Linked DNA regions of Homo sapiens. The protein of the gene in region 1 purifies or fractionates together with the protein of each later gene. This does not show direct contact. Each region holds a gene or a part of one and is shown on either strand. Other genes may lie near its edges.

Region 1 (7,933 bases):
TGGACCCAGTGTACAGATGTGAAAACTAACGCCCAGAGAGGTGATTGGCTCACCTGCAGTCACCATACTACTCCTGGGGAACCACTCATGTCCAGGCAAGATTGTGCTCATGAATACCAGCACATACACTGAGAGACGGTAAATACATGATCAACACACAGTTCCGTTCAGTTCAGGGGACCAAGTCAGACCACGGCAATCTCATCTAACACACACTCCGCCTCTTCCTGTTCCCTGCACACTTTTCTTCTCACCTTCTTCCCGTATTTCCTAAGTGCTCGCAGTTGCTTAGCTTTTTCAGACCTCTCCATGGCAGCCTGTTTAGTCTGCAGCTTCTGTCGAATCTACAACACAAAATGCTGTCAGTTCATGTCATTTGAATCTGGAATGACCACTACTTAGGATTCGCTAGAGCAGGGAACAGATATTCCCTGTTCTTTAAACTGCGGAACTTATAAATCATCAGTTCCAACCCCTGAGGACAATGGGGCCCACAGGCTGAGCACTTTACCAAAAGTGCCAGAGTGAAGCCAGAGATTGAAAGTCACCTTCCCGCTCCCAGTGTGCTGTCTGTTTCATTATACAAACTGCCTATTTGTAGCCCAGGAAAGAAGACAAACTTCTCCCCATTTCTACTGTCAGTAGACTGAGGCTGGAAACCAGTATGCGGCCTCAGTGTCCTTTTCTAGTATACCACATACACAATAAAAACCCAGGCAGATACCAGGTGCCTAGCCTTTTCAGTCAAACATACACATTTTAGTTAAAGGATGAGAAGTTGTCAGTGAGAATTTGTACAGAGTTCACAGTAAGAAGGTGAACTACTACCACGACAAAAGCTCCCTAAAATCCAGCTTGAGACCCCAGGGTACTATTTAAATATACTTATCCCTCAGTATCCATAGAGGATTAGTTCTAGGACCCACTACAGATATCAAAATCCACAGATGCTCAAGTCCTTTATATAAAAATGGTGCAGCATTTGCATATAACCTACACTCGCCTCCAGTATCCTTTAAAGTCAGAGGACCTCAACTCCCAGGCCACAGACCGCTACGAACCCACTATGAATCTGTGGCCTGTTAGGAACCAGGCCGCACAGCAGAAAGTGAGTGACAGGCAAGCAAGCATTACCACCTGAGCTCCACCTCCTGTCAGATTGGTGGTGGCGTTAAATTCTCATAGGAGTGCGAACTCTACTGTGAACTATGCATGGAACTATGCATGCAAAGGATCTAGGTTGCCTGCTCCTTATGAGAATCTAATGCCTGATGATCTGAGATGGAACGGTTTCATCCCAAAACTATCCCCTCCCCAAGTTCATGAAAAAATTGTCATCCACGAAACTAGTCTCTAGTGCCAGACCGCTTCTTTAAATAGTCTCTAGATTACTTATAATACCGAATACAATGCTATGCATCACCTCATTCTCATGGATTCAATGTAGTTCTCGGCACACGGAAAATTCAGTTTTCCTTTTGCAATATTTTCAAATTTTTTTCCCCAATATTTTTGATCCAAGGTTGGTTGAATCCACAGATGCTGAACCCATGGCTATGGAGGGCTGAATGTATGTTGGATTACATGCTGGCAATCCCTTCTTCCAAAGTTAAATGAGGTCCAAGTTCTACCCAACTCTAAATTGTACTATATCTGAACCATCTAAGAATCCCTCATTTTACAGAGGAGAAAACTGAGGCCCAGAGAAAAGTAATTGTCTACAAGTTCTAGCACTGACAGTGGCAAGGGCACAAGAATGCTGTCCTCTCTGCACACCATGTCATGACCATGCCAGCTAGGAAATGCACTGGGCCATCTTCACCTCGGGGACCACACTTCACACAGCACTGTTCCTCTCCTTAATTGCTGATTTTAGAAAAAATGTCATTTTTATATGCATCTAATTGGTGGTAACTGGCATGACTCTGAAGTAGCCAATCTATGGAAGAGGTAATAATTGTCCTCTGACAACTGGCTCCCCGTTATTGGGCTCATAGCTATCTTTCTAAGCCAGCTGAATATGCTTAAGTACAAAGTTTTGACTTTCCAGAGGAAAACTTCTATTTCTTACCTTCTGCATCTGCAGATCAGATTTGGCCATTTCCGCAAAATAATCAGTGGGTCGCTTCGTAGGGACTTTGAGCTGATGGAGGCGGGGTAAGACTGCAAGCACTGCGGCCTGGGCTTGGCGATAGCTGAGAATCGTAGGACAAAATGTGTAATGAGGTGAAGGAGGAGGCCTTACGTTCCTTTTCACCGCCAATCATGAGTTATCCAAGCTCAGAAGGACTCTCAAAATCTGACCTCCATTAGCAAGAACAAACAAACAAAAACTGTCTCACTGATTTAGTATCTAAAAGAAATGTAGCCGTATACTAGTTTTTAAAAAGGGGAGGGGTGTTGCTAAAAATAGTTTAAGAGAATGACTACTCTAAAGGTACCCATTAACACAAACGAATGTCGATTATGGATTCTTATGTAATTACTAAAGCAATTCCACACAAGAACATCCCATAAGCAATGTTTGTTTGTTTGTTTTCCTAATAACTGAAGCATGCACAAAAAGTTTTAACATGAATATTTCAAATTAGCCCATAAAGTGGATTTTGGATCGTGACCGTGGACCAAAGAGCTCTTCTCTCAAACAGGAAGAATCTCCTAGCTATTCTTAGTCAAAAGAAGCCGCTCTCTCTACTCCTAGGCTTATTCTGAGTGCAGACTTACTAATTTCCCCTCTTTCCCACTCTCCTGCACAAGGATCCTCAACTTCTCCAACATTTGAAAACAAACATACAAACTCATCTCTCGCTGGAAGTCGTCTTCTGGATCAACAGCTTTCTGGTCCTTGTTCTGAGGTGCTGGCGCCTCAGATCCACCGATCTCCGGTACCGGACCCAGTGTCACATCGAGCCTTTCAACCCATTCCAGATCCCGCTTGAATTCTGCCAAACATTGCTTCAGGCCATTCTAGGAAATCCAGACACTGAGCTCACAAGAAGGGAACTCTGAGTTTGTCTTTCCCAAGCACAGGCTGTTAGGCGAAGGGACAAAGTGCTAATCCCCAATACCCAGACAGGTAATTGACCCTCTTGGCGAGGCGCAGGGTGCATCTTTCCTGGGACAAGAATCGGTCTCCCAAGCCCAACAGCGCCTGAAGCGCATCCCATGTCCGAGTACCCCCGACCCTGTGCCCACGCTCACCACGTCGTTCACGGCCTTCTTCGGCCCCTCTAGCACGACATTGAGGCCTGGCTTCAGAAGCCCTCGGGAAAACGCATCCTGCAACTGCAGGACACAATCACGGTCACTCCCAGGGGTGTAAGGCCCCCTCTCCCACGCCCAGCCCCACGAGCTCGGCTGACACCTACCTCTCTGTCTGTGACAAGGGATTCATCGGATTCCGACTCCGAATCCGAGAGCGGGGGAGTGTCCATCTCGCCGCACGCACGTCCCACACCTACAGGAAGAAACGGGGTATCCCGAGACCCAAGCGGCTAGCAGAGGGCGGCCCTGGCCGCTGCTGCCTGCCTTCAGCCCCCTACTCCCACGCCGTGGCTCCACGTGCCACCGAATCGCTCCAGCGCCAGCAACTCACAGCTACTGCTCAACTTTTGATTGGGACTTCCGCTTCCGGCGGCAAACCATACTTCCGGTTTGTCGTTGCTATAGGAACCGCTACGGCGTTTGAAAGTGTCCGGGTTGCTTAGGATCCCTACAGGTAGCGCCTCTGGATACATGCGTGGTCTGCTGACCCAGAGAGAAACGAAAGGTGGGAGGGGGTACCTGGGGGTCGCCAGAAGGAGCTGGTAGCAGTGAGGGTACAAAGGAAAAGGCAGAAAAAGGAGCCGCGGGGGTGGGGTGGCGCGGAGGAGGACCCCGGGGGAGGGGAAAGGGGAGGGACAAGGGGAGGGGAAAGGGGAGGGACAAGGGGAGGAGAAAGGGGAGAGACAAGGGGAGGAGCAAAGGGCGGGGAGGGCGAGTCCGGGCCGGGGGCGGGGTCGGAGCGGGGCGGTGCTCTCCACTCTGAAGCGCTGCCTTGGTCTTCAGCAGAACTGTTTGGCGGGAGATCATGTCAGCCGTGGTAGCTCAGACGCTGCATGTTTTTGGTCTTCGATCCCACGTGGCCAACAATATCTTCTACTTCGATGAACAGATCATTATATTTCCTTCAGGAAATCACTGTGTGAAGTACAATGTGGATCAGAAATGGCAAAAATTCATTCCAGGTAAAACTTTTTCCATCCTGACATATACAGGAATGGTATGTGCCACATATAACCCCATAATCCCAGCATGATGATTGGAAAGAAAGATTTTGGCCAATTTGAATATATATGCAGTATTATAAATGTAGAGGAAATAAATGGCGACTTGTATTATGAAACTAGATTAATCAGTCACGCATATGTAGTTAAAATCACATATAAAATGTTAATTTAAAAGTACTTTTTTCACTGTAATTTCATGAAAATATGTTAAGAACCCCTCTTTTGGTGTCTTCAATATCACTGCCTTTGTCATCACCAGAGCCACTTTTTGAGTTGTCTAACAGTTTTCCTGAGCACACCACCTTCATTATATCACCGTTTGAATCCAAGTATGATGAAGACACTGTAAACTTTATCCCAAGTCGCAAATAACCATTTGTATAGCATTACAGCCCTTATTTTTGTTCACAGTGGTCCTGTTAATGATATTCATTATTTCAACAACCGAATCCATTTTCCCATTCTTTGTTGCATTGACACCTTTTATTGTGACATATACATACAAAAGAATGTACCCTACATATATGTCATATTTAAAGAATTACAATAGAATGTAGATCTGTGAACCCAGCCACCCAGCATAGGAAACAGAATATTACCAGTTCTAGTGCTTCTCCCTGTATTCTGTGTCTTGCTGCATCAGTTCAATGTCATGCTTTTGAGATTCACACATCTCGATACATATAGCCAAGTTCATTTTATTGCTATGTAGTGTTCCATCATATGAATATAATGTCTCAAATATATGTATTCACTCTAATATTGAGGGACATTTGGGAAATAACAATCATTTGCTATTACAAACTATACTACTATAAACATTCTTGCATGCATATACATTCATCTATTTGTGCAGATTCTCTAGGGCACACAGCCAGGACTAAAATTACTGAGCAATATGATAGTACCAATTTACACTCCCACTAGAAGTGCATAAGAGTTCTTATTCCTCAGCAACCCTGCCAACCCTTGGTATTGTCCAACTTCGTAATTTTTTGCTAACCCAATGGTTGAGAAAAGGAATTGTGGTTTTCGTTTGCATTTTGCTATCATTAATGATGATGAGTATCTGTTTATGGGCTATTCCTATTTAGTCGTATGTTAAATGCCTTGTTCAAGTCTTTTACTTGTTTTTTACAGTTTGTTGTGCAGGATATTTTTGGGCAATTTTATTGATTTACATGCACAATTTATATATTCTGTATATCAATAATTTGTCAGATATATATATATGTCTTGCAAATAATTTCTTTCAGTTTGGGGCATTTTTCTCCCATCTTACAAGTATCTTTTGATGGACAAAAATTATTAGTTTTAATAAAGTCAAATTTATCAACCACATAATATTCTGTTGGAATAAGCTGTATTAAATACAGTTGACTTTAATTTATTGATGTTTATTTCCAGCATATTTGCTAAATTATTATTAATTCTAATGATTTGTCTATAGATTATGCAGAGACTTCTACATAGACTATCATGTTATCTACAAATAACGATGACTTTCTTCCTTTTTCTTGTGTTACCTGTGCTGGTAAGCACCTCCAGACAGTGTTGATTAGGGGCAATAAAAATGGACATCTGGCCAGGTGTGGTGGCTCATGCCTGTAATTCCAGCACTTTGGGAGGCCAAGGTGGGCAGATCACGAGGTCAAGAGATCAAGACCATCCTCGCCAACATAGTGAAACCCCGTCTCTACTAAAAATACAAAAATCAGCTGGGCGTGGTGGCACGTGCCTGTAGTCCCAGCTACTCGGGAGGCTGAAGCAGGAGAATTGCTTGAACCCGGGAGGCAGAGGTTGTGGTGAGCCAAGATCGCACCACTGCACTCCAGCCTGGGAAACCAAGCCAGACCCTGTCTCAAAAACAAAAATAAAAAAGATCATATGACTTTCCAATATAAATTAAATTATGGTTTTCTACAGACAACATTAATTTATATTTGCTCTCATACTTACCAAACTTTTTCCCACCATTACTCTTTACAAATCAGATATTCCAGCTGGGATCATTTTCCTTCTGCATTTACTGATAATGTATTAATAAATTCTCCCAGTTTTTGTCTGAAAATGACTTTATTTTATCCTCATTTCTGAAAGATAGTTTCAACAGGTGTGAAATTTTTATCAGCATATTATAGATCATATTCCATTGTGTTTTTTTGGCTTCTCTTTTGTTGCTGTGGTTAAGAAATTAGCTATCAGCATCGTCTTTCTGTAGATGATCTTTTTTTCTGGATGTTTAATATCTTCTCTGTCTATGGTGTGTGTGTGTATGTATCTATACACATACACCATATACATATATACGTATAAAATACACACCATATATACACACACCATATACTATATGTACATGTATATATACATAGTATATATACATACATATAGATACAGACACACACATCAGTATAGTTTTTATTTTCATTTTTTATCCTCCTAGGGATTATTTGAGATTCCTGGATCTAAGGACAGGTATCTTTTTTGTTCTGTTATCTCCTTCTGGAACTCCAAACCATCTCAACTCCATCCTTCCAGTTTTTTATTTTATTTTATTTTATTTATTTATTTTTTAAGAAACCAGGTCTCACTCTGTTGCCCAGGCTGGAGTGCACTGGCACAATCATAGCTCACAGCAGTCTCAAACTCCTGGGCTCAAGCCATCCTCCCCACCTTAACCTCCTGAATAGCTGGGAATACAGGCATGCACCACCTTGACCAGCTAATTGTTTTTATGGAGATGGGGTCTGGCTATGTTGCTGAGGCTGGTCTTGAACTCCTGAACTCAACTCATCCTCCCACCTCAGCCTCCCAAGTAGCTGGGATTACAGGTGCAAGCCACCACACCTGACGTTCATGTTTTTGGGTTTTTTTTTTTTTGAACTCTTATTTGGATTTTTTATACCTTACTCTCTCTGTGTTGCATTCTAGATAATTACTTTAGATGTATCTCGTAGTTCATTGCTTCTCTTTTCTGCTGCATCTAACTTAATGTTTAATGTATCCATTGAGATTTTACTTTCAGTTATTGTGCTCATATTCTTACACTTCTTACTGTATCACTTCTCTTCTGCTCCTAACTCCATCTTATATCACCAGGGGCCTTGTACACATGTGGGTGGATCCTTGCAGCCCATATGTTCAAATTCTACCCATATATTCTATAAGCAACCACCCTGTGCCCATCCTTCAGGCCCAGGTTGAGTAGAGACAGCCTGGGAAGAAACCCCCAATGTTGGTCTTGTCAGCAGGCTCAAGACTATCTGAGCAGGGAACTCCAGAGTCCTGGGTACCTGCAACGTGATCTAGAAGAGGCAGGACAAACTCCAGGCAGCCACTGTATCCCACTTAATGGTAAGGGGTACAGCCAGAGAAAGACTCCGGGATGCTCTAAAATTTGAGGCCCAAGGGAGGATCTCCACTGACCAAGTCTAAGGGTATTACCGGTGAAGGGAAAAATATAAAGGTCATGACATTGGGAGACCTGGCTTTGATCTGGCTCCCCATTTTATAGGCTCACAGAGCCTCAGTCTCCTCATCTGTAAGATGCAGATGATGCTCAGCTTGTTCAGCTCAGAGTCATGATGAGGCTCAACATATTCATTTGTTCACTCAACAAAAATGTATTAAGTACCCCCTGTGTTCCAGGCACAAAATAGACACGC
Region 2 (7,549 bases), on another chromosome or scaffold:
TAAATTCATCACAATGTTGATAGTCCCGCCTCTCACGTGGCCTTGTCTTTTACTAAAAAGGGAGGTTGAGAGGCAAGTACTTAAGACCAGAAAGAATAAGCAATATACGTAGTGCAGAACAAATGGCTTTTTGGGGGTTTACTGGATGGGCAGTTTCCTCCCCAGCCCCAAGGTTCCAAAGTGTCCACTGGTCTATCCATCTAGCGTGAGTTCTATTCCAGAACTGCTTTTTGGGAGATGGGAGTCTCGCTTTGTTACCCAGCCTGGAGTATAGTAGTGTGTGCTCAGCTCACTCTGCTTCCCGGGTTCACGTGACTCTCCCGCTTCAGCCTCCTGAGTAGCTGGGACTACAGGAGTACACCACCATGCCCAGCTAATTTTTGTATTTTTAGTAGAGATGGGCTTTCACCATGTTGGCCAGGCTGGTCTTCAACTCCTGACCTCAGTTGATCTGCCTGCCTCGGCCTCCCCAAGTGTTGGGATTACAGGAGTTAGCCACTGCTCTTCCCTGAAGCTCTTCCTTGTCCTAGGAAACCTGACTAATCTGTTCCTGCACCTCTTTCCAGAGTGGTCTTCAGGACATAATCCTCAGACCTGCTAAAAGTAGGAGAAGCTGCAGCAGCCTTCAAGTCAGCACCAGGGCTGCAGGAGCAGGTCCCCTCACCAGCATTTCAACCAAGTTAGTTAGGGCTGGGATACTGGAAACACGCACTAAGCCATTTCCATTGGGATGGGTGAAGCAAGTGGCAGAGCTGGCTTTGCCATGCTCTCCAGTGACATTCCAGGGGAAACACTCTTTAGGAAGTAACACGTCTGGCACCAGAGTTGACTTTTAATTTGTCCTAAAGCCGCTGAAGCAAAAACCATGATAAAACATTCTGCTTTCTTTTCTTTTACAACCCCACGAACGCAAAAAAAAAAAAAACAAAAACAAAACAAAAAAAAGAAACAACAACAAAACCCAAACTATTTGTAGGAAAAAATGGTTTTGTACATGGGATGAAACAATATAAATTCAAAACTTACAGATAAGGGTTAGCTCTATCACTCAACTCTTTAAAAAGTTTATATGAATATCCAGTCAAAACCAACACGGTATTGCCCTTGAAATGTTAACTAGACGGATTTCCAAGGAGACCACAGGACTGTATACTGTCTTGGAATGTCCTCAGAAGGCTCTGTCATTGATCAGGTAACAGTAAAAACCCCAGAGTCCTTTCTTTCAAATGGAAAAGGGAAAGCAGAGGGACAGAAGCTATTCAAACTTCGTCTTCTTTCCTTGTGGCTTGTGGTCACCTCCTCCTCCTCTGCCTCCTCGGAAGCCTCCTCGCCCTACAGGAGGAAGGCAAGACACTGTTAAAAGAATGGGTACAAAGCTCCTCCTCCCCAGTGATTAGGAACCGTGACAGGGCACAGGGTCTGAAGAGCACATGCTATGTGGTGTCATTATCTCTGCGTGCCTTACCTCCAAAGCCTCCCCGGCCTCTGCCACCAAATCCTCCTCGGCCTCCTCTACCACCACCTCGTCCTCCAAAGCCGCCTCTGCCTCCACCACGACCCCCGAAGCCACCTTCACCCTTAGGTTTGGCCCAGTCCAAGGTAACTTTATTTCCATCAATTTCACCGTCTTCCATGGCCTCCTTGGCAGCTTTGGCATCCTCCTCACTGTTGAAGTCTACAAAACCAAACCTAGAACACCAAATGAAATTGCCCATTATAAAAAGCACCTACTACACATGTCCCAAGTTAACTGTACATGCTGGGGAGCCATCCCACAGAAAGTAGCCTTGTTTATTTGGGAAAAGATACCAGTGACAGAGTAGCTCTCTATGGAAAACTAACTGGTGTGACAGCTTGAACCCCAGAATGTCTCACAATACAGCTAAATATACCTCTGTAAAGACAGAAGGTAAAATAATGCTAGTTCTGTGAATTCTCTCTTCTTCTCGTGCGAATCCATAAACTGCCACTGATAGACAGAAAGGAGCTCAATGAGAAGACACATTAGACTCAAGGTCTGCACAGAACAAAAACCCCTTCAAGTGGAAGCAGCACTCACGCTTCCTTCCCTTACCCTTTGGAGGACCCAGTTTCCCGGTCAGTAACTATCCTTGCCCGAACGGAGCCGTCAAATGACTCCTTTAATGTCTCTTCAGTGGTATCCTCAGACAGGCCTTTGACAAACAGAGTTTTGGATGGCTCTGGGAAGGAAAAAAAAATGTGACTTTATGTGAAGTCACAGTTCGTAACACTGAATTTGCACAATGCCTAGTATGACTACTAGCCAAGAATACTTGTTATAGTGAAAAAGCAGTTAAAAGCAACTAAGCCAACTAGTCCTTAATTAAAGTAAAGGCTATTCTGGGTTTACATTTTTTAATTGCCATTGCATAGTTGATATCCTGCCCCAGATCTTCTATGGAAAGTGGGAGAAGCAACCCAAGCAGGTGGGGCCCAGTGGATGGGGCAGGAAATCATGGGCAAACTTGCTACTCTGAGTTGACACAGCTGGATCAGAACTTGACTATCTAGAGGAATTTTCTTGAGATTTCATCAATTATTTCTCAGGTAATCAGTCATCATATCCAGTTATTGTTCACTCAGTAGCAACAGGAAACACAGAATTTGTGCAAAAAATAAACAAAGCACCGAGAGTGCTACCCCCAACCACAGCACCCTAACCAGGTGAACTTACGGCTTCTGGCATTAGGTGATCCCCTGGGTCCTTGCAACTCCAGCCTGATTGCTCTGCCCTCAATTTCCCTTTTATTACAGGAATTTAAAGCTTCTTTAGCGTCTTCGAATGAAGCAAACTCTATAAATGCATACCTGAGGATGAACAGTTAATGCTTAGAGTAAGTTACCAGGCACATGCTCCTTCACTGTCACATGATGCTGCCAAGCCCCTTCTCTCAAGTTGGTACCTAAATGATGATCTTTATTTTACACTCATTTACGTAGCTAAAATTATTTGGCTTTTCTGACAGGATCACATGACCTTACGTTCCTTTAGACCTCTAAGACATATATAGCCTATAACTGATGATACAAAGGTATTATCTTACCCTTTAGATTTGCCATTTTGGTTCTGGGGTACTTTGATAAAAGTTGCTTTCTCAAATACTTCCTGAAGAGTTTCTTCTGTTGCACTGTAGGAGAGGTTGCTTAAAACCAGAGTTTTTGATTCACCTGCAAATAGAGATGCCACATTCCTAAGACTCTGAAACAGTGGTTCCCAGCTTCGGTCACAACAGTAATATCTTATTCCTAAGAATTTCAGTGCTTGAGTTAATATACAAATACTCATGACGTAAGCTAAATCCATTTCTGTTACTCAACATATTAAGTACCTAGTACGTGTTGCAATGTCCTGCTGGTTGTTCTTACATAGGCTGATGACTGGTCTGTTTTCCTAGAATCATCTGAGTTCAAAACGCACATGGTCAAGTCATTTAAAGTATAAAACATGCCTACAAAGGAAGCTTGATTTGCCTACTGTATTCCAATGCAAAATGATTTTAGAGCTCTCATTCAAGATTGGAAATTACTATTCCAAATAAGAGTATGACTTGGGGTATCATGTCCTTGATCTTCACCTACATTTGAGTAACTTTGATTAAAAAGTATTTATAAACTTATGAAATACAAAGACACAAAGGAGTTCCCTCCACCAATTCTGAAACCTTGTAACAAGCCTAATTTCTTACCACTCCAAGTGCTATTCTTTCCACCTCTATAGTCTTGATTTTGACCTTTCTCTCCAGTATAGTACAGGGAAATAGATCGCCCATCGATCTCTGTTCCCTGCTTTTCTTCAAAGGTTTTCTCTGCATCAGCTTCTGTCTTAAATTCAATATAAGCAATCCTGCAATGGAGGGAGAAGAACTCATGGTTTTTAAAACCATATTAACACAAATGCTTTTACCTCAGCAACACAGAACTTGCTTCAGATCTGAGTACAATAAATGCCCTTAGTTTTATGCCACTTTTCAATCAAAACTCGAGCTTCCCTCTTACTTCCCACTAGTTTTACAAATACTTGGAATTTTTTCATAGTAACCTCACCTCACTGAAAGAACTGCTACTACTTACAAAGTATTTATTGTAAGATAGGCACATTTCTTGCTTCTTTGTAAGTATTAGCTTGTCTTTTAAAATCACCCTATGAGTACATTATCCCCATGGTACAGATGGGTTACTGAGGCACAAACTTACAGGTTAAACTGTCCAAGATTACACGCCTAAGGAAATCAAACCAATATTTCTTTTATAAAGCAGGAAAGTGCATTAATGTTAATAAAACCCTTACATTTCAATAGACAGAACATACCCTTTACTTTTCCCATCCTTGCTGACTAATCTGATCTCCGCAGCATCTTCAAACACTTCTTTCAATTCATCCTGAGTGACTTTGTAAGGGAGATTTTTAGCCAAAAGTGTTCTCGCATCTCGCTCTAGATTAAAAAAACAAAAATGAGCTCTGTGGCCTGAAAAACCAAAGGTGGGGGGCAACAACAAAAAGAGGGGAAAAACACACATAGCTCTATTCAACAAATAATTTGAGATCCTATAATGTACAAGGCTCGGTGCTAAATATGGAGATATAGCAGTGTCAACACACAAGTGGTCCCTCCATGTTGTCACAGCTGATGTCAAACTCTCTGTTAGGTACACTGGAGTTCAACCTAGAGTAGACGCGCATAACAAAAAAAGTGAATGTACCAATTCAAAACATTACAACTGTATATAGGGAGTAATTAGGGACCTAATCTAGTTTCAGTGAAGAAAGATCCCTTTACGTTAATTTAGGTGCATCTAATAATTCTTGTTCTGTATAAAAGTGCTCTTGCTTGCCTAACTCAGGAATTTACACTATAACACTGACAAGCAGTGCCAAGTACTCTTGTAAACACTGTAGCTCATTTAATTCCCACATTAAGAGGAAACCAAAGGAAAAAAATGATTTAAAAAAATAAGAGGAAACCAAGGGAAATGGGTTACAAAGCATTTTCCCTAGCAGTCTAGCTCCTGAGTTCATTGCATAATCTCATAAAGCCTTACATACCTTTCTTACTGTCTTTTCCTTTTGGTTTCTCTAGTTTAATTTCATTGCCAAAGACTTTCAAACCAGTGAGTTCCAACGCTTTCTCCAGGTCTTCAGCAGATTCAAAATCCACATAACCAAATTTCCTTCAAGGTGGAGAGGAGGGCAAAATTACAACAGGTGAAAACACAAATCAAAATCCACAATATGTATTCTAGACAAATGTGATGGTGCAAACAAAGATCACATTTTAAAAAGCACCCCTAGTATTAGCAAAACAAAGTCAAGGCTCTGCAAACTGCAGCTACAGAACAAGGTCTCAGCATGAAGATATGACATGCACATTCACGTTTGAGGTCTTCATCATGGAGCTAAATTGCTTATAAGAATTCACAGTAGCAGCTGACAAAAGAACACCTATAAGCACTAATACAGGAGAATCCTGTCTGGATAAAAGTATTCACTATGATGACTAGACAGGTCTAATAGTTTCAGGTACTTCCAAGAAAATAAACATTATTTTAAATTGAGACGGTGTCTCAATCTGTTGCCCAGGCTGGAGTACAGTGGCGCGAACTTGGCTCACTGCAACCTCTGCCTCCCAGGTTCAAGCGATTCTCCCACCTAACACCAAATTATTAAAACTTACTGGCAGGGTGGCTCACGCCTGTAATCCCAGCACTTCGAGAGGCCGAGGTGGGTGGATCACTTGAGGTCAGGAGTTCAAAACCAGCCTGACCAACATGGTGAAATGCCATCTCAACTAAAAATACAAAAATTAGCCAGGCATGGTGAAGTGCACCCGTAATCCCAGCTACTTGGGAGGCTTAGGCAGGAGAATCGCTTGAACCCGGGAGGCAGAGGTTGCAGTGAGCCAAGATTGCGCCACTGTACTCCAGCCTGAGCAAAAGCCAGCGTCCGTCTCAATACATAACAAAAACAACAAAAAAACTTACTAAAAATTATTCTGTGCTATACCAAGTTACGACTGATTATGGAAATTGCAACTTAGGGGATCTACAGTTTAATTCTAACTTAGTTCACTAATGCTAATCCTTGAAGATGTTTACAGTATTCATGTTTAACAGTAGCAGGCTAAAGTAACTGTGCTAACAGGGGAAGGAAAAGCATTAACAGACCCACGTGTATGTAACGTGCAGTGAAGCACTTACCTAGTCATACCAATTCTGACATCCACAACAGCAAGATCATTTTTAGCAAAAACATCGCTGATACCAGTTTTTAATTCAGGAGCAGATTTGTTAAAGTTTAGGTTTCCAACAAAGAGATTGAAAGCCGTAGTCGGTTCTGTGCCTGCACAAAAAAAGCTCAACTCAGTCTACTTGTAGTGTGGTAAAAAGTTAGTTTCCAAAGCAAAATTTCTATACACAGCACATCAGCACACTACAATGTAACATCAGGTTTCAGTATTAAGTCCCTTTGTTATTCATCATTTGTGCTGTTTATCTCCCCCATATCCCCTAATTCTGCAAGTTACCTTCCACTTTCTGTTTCTTGGCTTCAGGAGCTGCTTTCTGTTTGGCCATTTCCTTCTTTCGTTTTCCAGGTGCTTCTTTGACAGGCTCTGGACAAGATGTCAAACAATGTATCACACATCAGTAGCCACAAACACTTAAGTGCCTCCTTTAAACATAACTCATGTCGTATGTCAGAATCTAATTTAAGTACCTTCCTCCTCCTCTTCTTCCTCCTCCTCATCATCTTCATCATCATCATCTTCATCATCTTCGTCGTCGTCGTCATCCTCGTCCTCATCATCCTCTTCTTCATCTTCATCCTCAGCCACGTTCTTGGCTTTCACAGGAACAACTTTTGCAGCTTTCTTTCCTTTGGCTGGTGTAGTCTCCATAGCTTCTTCTTCAGAGTCTGAAAGAGAAGTCACCTAAAAATTGCAGCAATCTCCCAAAACCAACATCGGTTTTCAAATCTAATGTAAAGAAAATGCAATCCTGTCACCATGTTTAGTTAACAGTCATGGCAAGAATAGATCACTTGGGGCCGGGCGCAGTGGCTCACGCCTGTAATCCTAGCACTTTGGGAGACCAAGGTGGGTGGATCACCTGAGGTCAAAAGTTCGAGACCAGCCTGGCCAACATGGTGAAATGTCGTCTCTACTAAAAATACAAAAATTAGTAGGGTGTGGTGGTGGGCACCTGTAATCCCAGCTACTCGGGAGGCTGAGGCAGAACTGCTTGAACCCAGGAGATGGAGGCTGCAGTGAGCCGAGATAGCGCGCCATTGCACTCCAGCCTGGGAAACAGCAAAAGCTCCATCTCAAAAAAATTTAAAAAAAAAAAAAATCACTTAGAAACAAAATCCTACATTATAAAAAACACTAATAGAATGTGCTATTGAAATTTTCTCAAGAGGCACAAAAATCATTCATGGGTAATTAAGTCTAGCACACCACAACAACCCAGAGAATTCCCACAAGGATTCTAATCTCATCTCCAGGTTGTCGTGGAAGGAATATGTTGATCCCAG
Region 3 (7,850 bases), on another chromosome or scaffold:
TCACTCAGACACCAGGACTGGCCATCACCCCCATAGCAGAGGCCTGTATAGGTCAGGGAGCCCTGGTCAGCCATCACCGTGATCCCCCAACAAGCAGTGGGCACCAGAAGTGGCACCTGATTGTGGGCAGGTGCCCTCACTGGTACCTGAACAGGGCCTTTTCAGCCCCAAGGATCTGCACTGTGGATGCTGGATACTTGGCCAGGTTGGTGAGGCTGCCAGCATGTGCGATGAGACGTGCACCTACCTGGAGAGAGAGTCAAGGAAGCAGTCAGAGAAATGAACTGCTGACCTGCCCAGTTGCACGACAGCCCTGCTCCCCACCTCCCCATCAAGCACAACTAGGGAAGACATGGTGGGTCACGAAATACAGCAGTGCAGGTGCACATGGCAACAGTCCTTATTCTCCCATTTTTGAGTCCCCTGTGACGCACCGCTTCCCCAATTAGGGCTGACAGGCTGGGGGCTACTTGGCTCATCTTGGAGCGCAGGTAAGTGTGTAGGCTCTGGCGGTATTCAGATAAAGACACCACACGACTGGAGAAGCTCTCGATGTTTATCAAGTCAATGGCAGATATGTCCATGCCTAGGAAAAACCAAGTGTGAATGCAAGAGGCCAGCTATTTAGAGCCCCATACCTTATGCAGGTTGCCAGGCTCTGCACTGACCCATGGAGGACCGTGAGGCATCCAGAATAGCCTTAGCCTTGGCCCCATCCATTGTCAGCTCCTCCAGCTTCTCCAGCTTGTCCTCATTCAGTTCCCTTCGGTTTCCAATAAACTGGGCAAGACGGCAGTATGTGGCATTGTCGTTGATGATCTTCACCAGCTCCGGAAAGTGATACCCGTACCACTCCCTGCAAAGAGCCACAGTCACTCCCTGGCCCAGCTGCTTCATCAAAAACCATAGAGCTACAGCCTTGCCTTCTCCACACCTACTCTGCCTGGAGGAAATGGGACAAAGATCCAAATCTTCCTCAATTCTATGTTCCCCCATTCACAATACAGACCAGGCACAGGGCCTGAGCTGAGGTGTATATGGGGTAGGTTTACTCTACCTCCTCTTTCTATACAGTCAGTGTAAGAACACAGCCTGTGGTAAGCACCAGGAGGCCTACACCCAGCCCCAGCCCACATGGTTCTACCCACAGGATGGTCAGTCCTCATCAAGACTCAAAATTAACTGAACTACAGACCAAAGGCTCCAGTATTATGGGTGGCCCCTGCACTTTACCTGACACGCATAGAGAAGGTATTGATGTCCTTATCCAGCTGGTCCAGGAGGCTAATGGACTGGATGATCATATTGTCCACCCGGTTCACATTAAACTTAACTTTGGCACGGGAATAGCTGTGTCCCAGCCCCAGCTGTGCTTTACAAGCTGACAGATCGGTCAGACCCTTCACCAGATTGTGGAAGTGCAGACGAACTCCTAAGAAGAGGGCAAGACGGTGAGCAACAAGGGGCTCTGAGCTAGCTCCCGCACCCACGGGCACCAGCCCAGCCTGAAGGCCTTCCCAGAAATCACAACAAGCAACCAAGTTTCCAGAACCTCCTCCCCCAAAATGTCCAGGATAACAGGAATATAACAGATGATGGTCTCACCTCGCAGGATCTCAGCTATGACTCCTCCAGTCTGGCAGTTGTACCCTAACTCCTCCTGTATTGCGGCACCAATCTTGGGATCCCCAACTCCCAAGAGTACTTTCTTCTTTTTGGACGGCAGGTGGGTCTCCAAGAGCAGGCGGAGGTCCTCATGAACAACCCCTCAGGGGAAAGAACACAGTTCCCACTAACAGGCTGAAGGACGATCAACTCTAACATCCCTCAGCTGACTACCCTGGTCCCACCGAGCACGCTGGGATGGCATACCTAGATCCCTCCCCATCAGGCATTGCTCAGAGACATGGAGACATCAGTGATTGCACTCAGGGGATTGACAGATTTGATTCGCAAGTCATCACTGCAAAGCCTGGCCCAGCCATGGGAACAACTGCATTCAGGTCTGATAGCACAAGTGGGCAATAAATAATAGCTTGTAACACACCCTCGAGTATTTCGTAGAATTTGCCTTCTGGAACCAAACCTTTTTTTCTCAGCCTGTGTTTACCCAACTGCCCTTTCCAATCGAACAGAAAGCAGAGAACCAGACACTTGATTGTGTTTAGGCAAAACCTCAGGCACAAGTAGGTGTTAAGCCGACCCCCTTTAAGAAACCCCCCTTTGTCGGCCGGGCACCGTCGCTCGCGCCTGCAACCTCAGCACCTTGGGAGGTCGAGGCGGGCGGATCACGAGGTCAGGAGATGGAGACTAGCCTGGCCAACATGGTGAAACCCCGTCTCTACCAAAAATACAAAATTAGCCGGGTGTGGTGGCTGGCACAGGCCTGTAATCCCAGTTACTCGGGAGGCTGAGGCAGGAGAATCGCCTGAACCAGGGAGGCAGAGGTTGCAGTGAGCCCAGATCTTGCCACTGCACTCCAGCCTGGGGGACAGACTCCATCTCAAAAAAAATAAAAATAAAAAATAGTTTGTCACTACAGTGCCCACAAGGAAACGTTAACACACATTCCACATCGTCTGCTTAAACAGTTTGGTCTAGCACAGTTCCCAGACCTTGAGCTCTGTGAAGACAATTATTTCAAATTACACATTGTATGGCTCAAATACTGCCTCACGCCTATCAGACTCAGAGCCAGCCAAGGACGGCAAATACTATCACAAGCTGCCCGAGAGGATACCGAAAGGAACCACATCTCTCTGTGACACTTGGCGGTGGCCGACTTACCTTCAGACACGGCGTTGGCATTTTCCAAGGCAACCTGGGATGAGGCAAAGGGACAAAAGGCCACCAGACGAACGATGCTGTGGAATTTGCCCAGGTTGAGCACAGACTCCTCCACCTGGGGGGAGAAAGAGGCTAAGTGGTTTCCTTCCCTCCCTCCTGCCTCTGCGGCGCAGTCAAGCAGCGGTTCTCAGCCTTGGAAGCTCTTAAAATATGCTGATACCTGGGCCCCACATCCCAGCTTCTGCTTTAATCGTTCGGGGGCGGCGTCCGGGAGGCTTATTTCTAATTGCTAGAGCGATTCTACCCATGGGTCAAGGTAAAGACCCCCGGATCTAGAGCTTTCCAGGCCCGTCCCCCCGCCCCGAACCGCTCGGCCGGCCACGTGGGAGCGCGCTGTGCATGCTGGGACCCGCGCGATGAGGGTCTGCGGGGCCGCCAAAGGAGCCCACGGATCTCACCCACCTGCGGCTGCAGCAGACTGATCTCCTCCACTTCCTTCAGCGCCAGCAGCGCGTAGCCGACCGCGTGCTCAAACAGCACGTGCAACAGCACCTGGAACGGGAGCCGGGGCGCGAGCGTCAACGCAACCTCAGCGTCTGCCGGAACCCGTTCCCAGGGCAGGCGCAGGCGCAGGCGCAGGCCCAGGCCCAGGCCCAGGCCCTGTCTGCGGCCCGAACGCAGGCCGAAACCCCCACCGTCGCGTCGCCCGCGCCCCGCAACCACTCCTCACCATGGCGCCAGCTCCCGGGTTCGGCTCGCAATGCGGCTAGCGCGCTCCGGCGCGCGGAACCAGGCTCCAGAGGCCACGCCCCCGCCCCCCCGACCAATCGGAGGCCGGGGACGACACCATCTCCGGCCTTTGGAGGGGCCGCCCAGGGTGGTATCGCCCGGAGCGCGGGCTGGGTGGTGCCGAGCGCGGGCGAGCGGGCCTTTTCCGGCCTCTGCAGCTGCGCGGGCGGGCGTGGTTGCCGGGGACGCGCGGCCCCCGGTCGGGCACTGCAGGCGGCGAAACGACTTGGGAAGGCCCTTTCGGGGTAATAGTCCGGTTCCTGATGTTCTTGTCATATGAGTTACGGGCAGCAGAGCTGGGTGAAGTCGGGGCGGGAGGTCCGCGTGGGGCGCGGCGTCCATCCCAGACAGAGACCGCTGCCTAGCCGGCTTCCCGCTTCGTCCGTGGCCTCGGGCCCCAGACCCTGCGCCCCACGTCCCCGGGACCCAGGCGTTCCCGTCCCCTACTCGGGGACGAGCCTCCCCGGCGCCGGGTGGGCGGTGCATCCTTTCCTCCCACCCGTAACGGGAGCGGTGCCTGGCGCGCTCTGGCGCAGACCCTGCTGGGAATGTAGCTCGCGCAGTTTTCTTCGTACTATTAATTTATTTCTTTTTTTTGTTTTTGGTTTTTTTTTTTTAAATGACTGTAGCAGGCAGTAACGTGCGAAAGAAAGACGCTCCAGCGTCTTCCTAGGCCAGTTTCTTGTTGCTGTGCTGCACGGGACCCAGCTCCTTTTGCTGGGCCACGTGTTGCTCCTCCGCTTGGGCGGCCCTGAATTCTGGGCGCTGGTGATCGCTGAGTGAATCGCAGCTGCTTCCCTGTCCTTGAGGGCGTCTTTTGGGCACTCAGGCGACTCTTTAGAAATGAGTTTTGCTTTAATAATTAATATTAACGTTATAAATCCAAAACCTAGTTATACTTAAGTAGCGTATCCCCTGGTATGTTTTAAAGAGTCATTCGAAGGGGATTTTTAAAAATAATGTATAGCTATAAACTGCATTTATACATTTAATTGTTATTTTGTTAAGCGATTGAGTTACTTGACAAAATCCAAGTACATAGTTCACTCACAAATCTAATATGTCAAACCTAAATGTGGTTGGTAAATCTTACTCTCATAATTTCAATATGGTTTACAGATGTGGTTGAATTCTGTTACACATGTCTACTTACGAGTCAGAATCGTTATTCCATTTAATATTTTAAAATGGAATTGCCAAGTTAATCCATACATTAGCATGTTAAATTATTTTAACCGTCGTGAATACATCAAAATAGACGATTCCAAAATGTAATGGAAAATACTAATGCTAATACTTCAATTTACTTCATTATTTCTGCCCTTAATCCTGAATCTTCCTGGAGTTACAGGTGCTTATCCACTAAACCAGGGGTTTTCAAGCAAGAAGTCAGAATGCATTAATGGACAGCATTTAAAAAAATAGGATTGGGTGGGCTATAATCCAGCACTTTAGGAGGCCGAGGCAGGCGGATCACTTAAGATCAGGAGTTCGAGACCAGCCTGGCCAACATGGTGAAACCCCGTCTCTACCAAAAAATAAAAAAATTAGCTGGACGTGGTGGAGCATGTCTGTAATCCCAGCTACTCGGGAGGCTGAGGAAGGAGAATCGCTTGAACCCGGGAGGCAGAGGCTGCACTCTAGCCTGGGCAACAGAGCAAGGCTCTGTCAAAAAAAAAAAAAAAAAAAAAAAAAAGAAAAAGGATTAAAGCGAATAGAAATAAGAGTGTGTTGCTTAGAGTAAGGTGCTGTTCATTGTAAAACTTTTGTCTCAGCTCTACATACATATATAGAAATATGTACACAAATATTTTTCATATATACATATATATGTAACTATATGAACACACTTTTGTGTGTTAAATCAGAATATAAAAAACCTGAGGGTCAATCAATGAGCCAAAAGGTAACCAGTCGTACTCTGGAAAAATTTGGGTCCTCTGGTTACAAAGGAGCTGTCATGAAGTAGTTTGCTGACTTACAGAGATGGCTGAAGAAAAGTGCTTCTGCTGGTGAGATAACCAATGCTTGTGATCAGATATGGATGTGGTATGAACATTAAAAGGTTTCCTTCGGTTTTCTCATCTCCATCCCTTCAATAAAATATCTCACCCTGATACTTGTAGTCTGACTCTAGTGGGATAACACAGGACTCCTGTTATCCTTGACACTGTTATCCAGTTATCCAGGGGGCATCTCTGCAACCTGTGGTGGAGTAGACCATCTTTGCCTTCCGCTTGGACTGTTTGCTGGGTGCACTGCTCCTGTCTAGGCTCAGGTCTTCACCACCAAAGTAGACTTTTTACAAAACCTTTGGTTTCCCCTTCAAGGCACTTTCTACTGCCAGAATGATCTTTCTAAGGCAGAATATCCAACCAGGTGCAATTTGTGGGTGCTTACAGGGTCATGAAATACCACCTATGGTAGTTAGTTTCCACAAATGGCCAAGATAGACGTGTGGGTGAAGCCATCCTGTGTGTCCCAGCCCCTGTCACCATCTCAGTGCAGCCATGTAAGGCCCCAAACAAGACCAGCAGAACCACCATCTGCATCTTGTCTACCCTGATTGTGACAAATAGTACATTGCGGTTTTCAGCCACTAAATGTAAGGGTGAGTTGTTAAGCAGCAGTAAATTTGAATCGGTCAGCTCACGTGGGTTCAAGCCCCAGCTCTGCCAGTACTTACAATGTGATCTTAATCACTGAATCTTCCTGAGCTTTCATTTCCTTTGCAGAATGAAGGTTGGGGTTTCATTCATCCCTTTAACAAACATTTATTGAAGATCTCCTGTGGGCCAGGTGTGACAATGGTGTACCTGGCATGTAGTGGGAGCTCAAAAAATATTAGTGGTCTTTCATCTTGCTCTTTTGTCCTTTAATTAATAAATAGCACAACAAAATGTTTTATCACCTATTTTCAGTTGAGTCTCAGTTCTCTGCAGTTATCACCTTGCATAGAAGCTACTGAAACCTCATTTTTTTCTTTTTTGGGACAGGGTCTCCTGTAGCCCAGGTTGGAATGCAGTGGCACAATCTTTGCTCATTGCAACCTTGATTTCCTGGGCTCAAGTGATCATCCTGCCTCAGCCTCCCAAGTAGCTGGGACTACTGGTGTACACCCCCATGCCTGACTAATTTTTTTGTAGAGATAGGGTTTTGCCATGTTGCCCAGGCTGATCTCAAACTCCTGGGCTTGAGCTATCCTGCTCTCCTCTGCCTCCCCAAATGCTGGGATTACAGGTGTGTGCCACCACACCCAGCTAATTTTTGTATTATTGGTAGAGACGGGGTTTTACCATGTTGGCCAGGCTGGTCTCGAACTCCTGACCTCAGGTGATCCACCTGCCTCGGTCTCTCAAAGTATCGGGATTACAGGTGTGAGCCACTGTGCCTGGCCAGGATCTTATTTTTTATGGCTGAATAGTACTCCATTGTGTATACATACCACGTTTTCTTTTCTTTTTTTTTTTGAGATGGAGTCTCGCTCTGTTGCCCAGGCTGGAGTGCAGTGGCGTGATCTCGGCTCACTGCAAGCTCCACTTCCTGGTTCAGCCTTCTGAGTAGCTGGGATTACAGGCGTCTGGCACCACACCTGGCTAATTTTTGTATTTTTATTTTATTTTATTTTATTTTATTATTATTATTATTATTATTATTATTATTATTATTATTATTTGAGACGGAGTCTCGCCCTGTCGCCCAGGCTGGAGTGCAGTGGCGCAATCTTGGCTCACTGCAAGCTCCGCCTCCCAGGTTCACGCCATTCTCCTGCCTCAGCCTCCCGAGTAGCTGAGACTACAGGCGACCGCCACCGCATCCGGCTAATTTTTTGTATTTTTAGTAGAGATGGGGTTTCTCCGTGTTAGCCAGGATGGTCTCAATCTCCTGACCTTGTGATCCGCCCGCCTTGGCCTCCCTAAGTGTTGGGATTACAGGCGTGAGCCACCACGTCTGGCTAATTTTTGCATTTTTAGTAGAGAGAGGTTTCACCATGTTGGCCAGGCTGGTCTCAAACTCCTGACCTTGTGATCTGCCTGCCTCAGCCTCCCAAAGTGTGAGCCAGCGCTCCCTGCTGATTTTTGTATTTTTAGTAGAGACGGGGTTTACCATGTTGGCCAACCTGGTCTCAAACTCCTGACCTCAGGTGATCTGCCTGCCGCGGCCTCCTAAAGTGATGGGATTACAGGCATGAGCCACCATGCCTGGCCTGTATATCTTATTTTGAGAAATGTCTATTCAGATCTTTTGCCTATTTTTAAATTGGATTATTATGT

The links. Proteins that work in one complex are often made in the same cells at the same time.
Region 2: the proteins of EBNA1BP2 (region 1) and NCL purify together in Homo sapiens (affinity purification with mass spectrometry; 3 studies listed by BioGRID and IntAct, with this or other methods). This does not show direct contact.
Region 3: the proteins of EBNA1BP2 (region 1) and NOP56 purify together in Homo sapiens (affinity purification with mass spectrometry; 4 studies listed by BioGRID and IntAct, with this or other methods). This does not show direct contact.

What each region holds. Positions count from the first base shown.
Region 1 is NC_000001.11:43,168,685-43,176,617, forward strand, and holds the start of EBNA1BP2 (probable rRNA-processing protein EBP2), read right to left. Parts: upstream 3,596-7,933; 5' UTR 3,458-3,595; coding exon of another isoform or gene 3,435-3,457; coding exon 3,369-3,434; intron 3,286-3,368; coding exon 3,202-3,285; intron 3,029-3,201; exon of another isoform or gene 2,968-3,028; coding exon 2,795-2,967; intron 2,196-2,794; coding exon 2,072-2,195; intron 345-2,071; coding exon 255-344; intron 1-254. Other genes in the region: CFAP57 (cilia- and flagella-associated protein 57), read left to right, coding at 4,070-4,226. UniProt on the Homo sapiens protein: Required for the processing of the 27S pre-rRNA.
Region 2 is NC_000002.12:231,453,936-231,461,484, forward strand, and holds part of NCL (nucleolin), read right to left. Parts: intron 6,932-7,549; coding exon 6,734-6,931; intron 6,630-6,733; coding exon 6,543-6,629; intron 6,508-6,542; exon of another isoform or gene 6,433-6,507; intron 6,359-6,432; coding exon 6,217-6,358; intron 5,191-6,216; coding exon 5,066-5,190; intron 4,455-5,065; coding exon 4,331-4,454; intron 3,866-4,330; coding exon 3,708-3,865; intron 3,190-3,707; coding exon 3,066-3,189; intron 2,830-3,065; coding exon 2,696-2,829; intron 2,589-2,695; exon of another isoform or gene 2,509-2,588; intron 2,202-2,508; coding exon 2,075-2,201; intron 2,002-2,074; exon of another isoform or gene 1,865-2,001; intron 1,690-1,864; coding exon 1,466-1,689; intron 1,333-1,465; coding exon 1,256-1,332; 3' UTR 1-1,255. UniProt on the Homo sapiens protein: Nucleolin is the major nucleolar protein of growing eukaryotic cells. It is found associated with intranucleolar chromatin and pre-ribosomal particles. It induces chromatin decondensation by binding to histone H1.
Region 3 is NC_000020.11:2,648,331-2,656,180, reverse strand, and holds the start of NOP56 (nucleolar protein 56), read right to left. Parts: upstream 3,550-7,850; 5' UTR 3,521-3,549; coding exon 3,518-3,520; intron 3,405-3,517; exon of another isoform or gene 3,340-3,404; coding exon 3,250-3,339; intron 2,903-3,249; coding exon 2,788-2,902; intron 1,970-2,787; exon of another isoform or gene 1,895-1,969; intron 1,768-1,894; coding exon 1,606-1,767; intron 1,433-1,605; coding exon 1,234-1,432; intron 1,115-1,233; exon of another isoform or gene 983-1,114; intron 857-982; coding exon 669-856; intron 587-668; coding exon 435-586; intron 248-434; coding exon 147-247; exon of another isoform or gene 1-146. UniProt on the Homo sapiens protein: Involved in the early to middle stages of 60S ribosomal subunit biogenesis. Required for the biogenesis of box C/D snoRNAs such U3, U8 and U14 snoRNAs. Part of the small subunit (SSU) processome, first precursor of the small eukaryotic ribosomal subunit.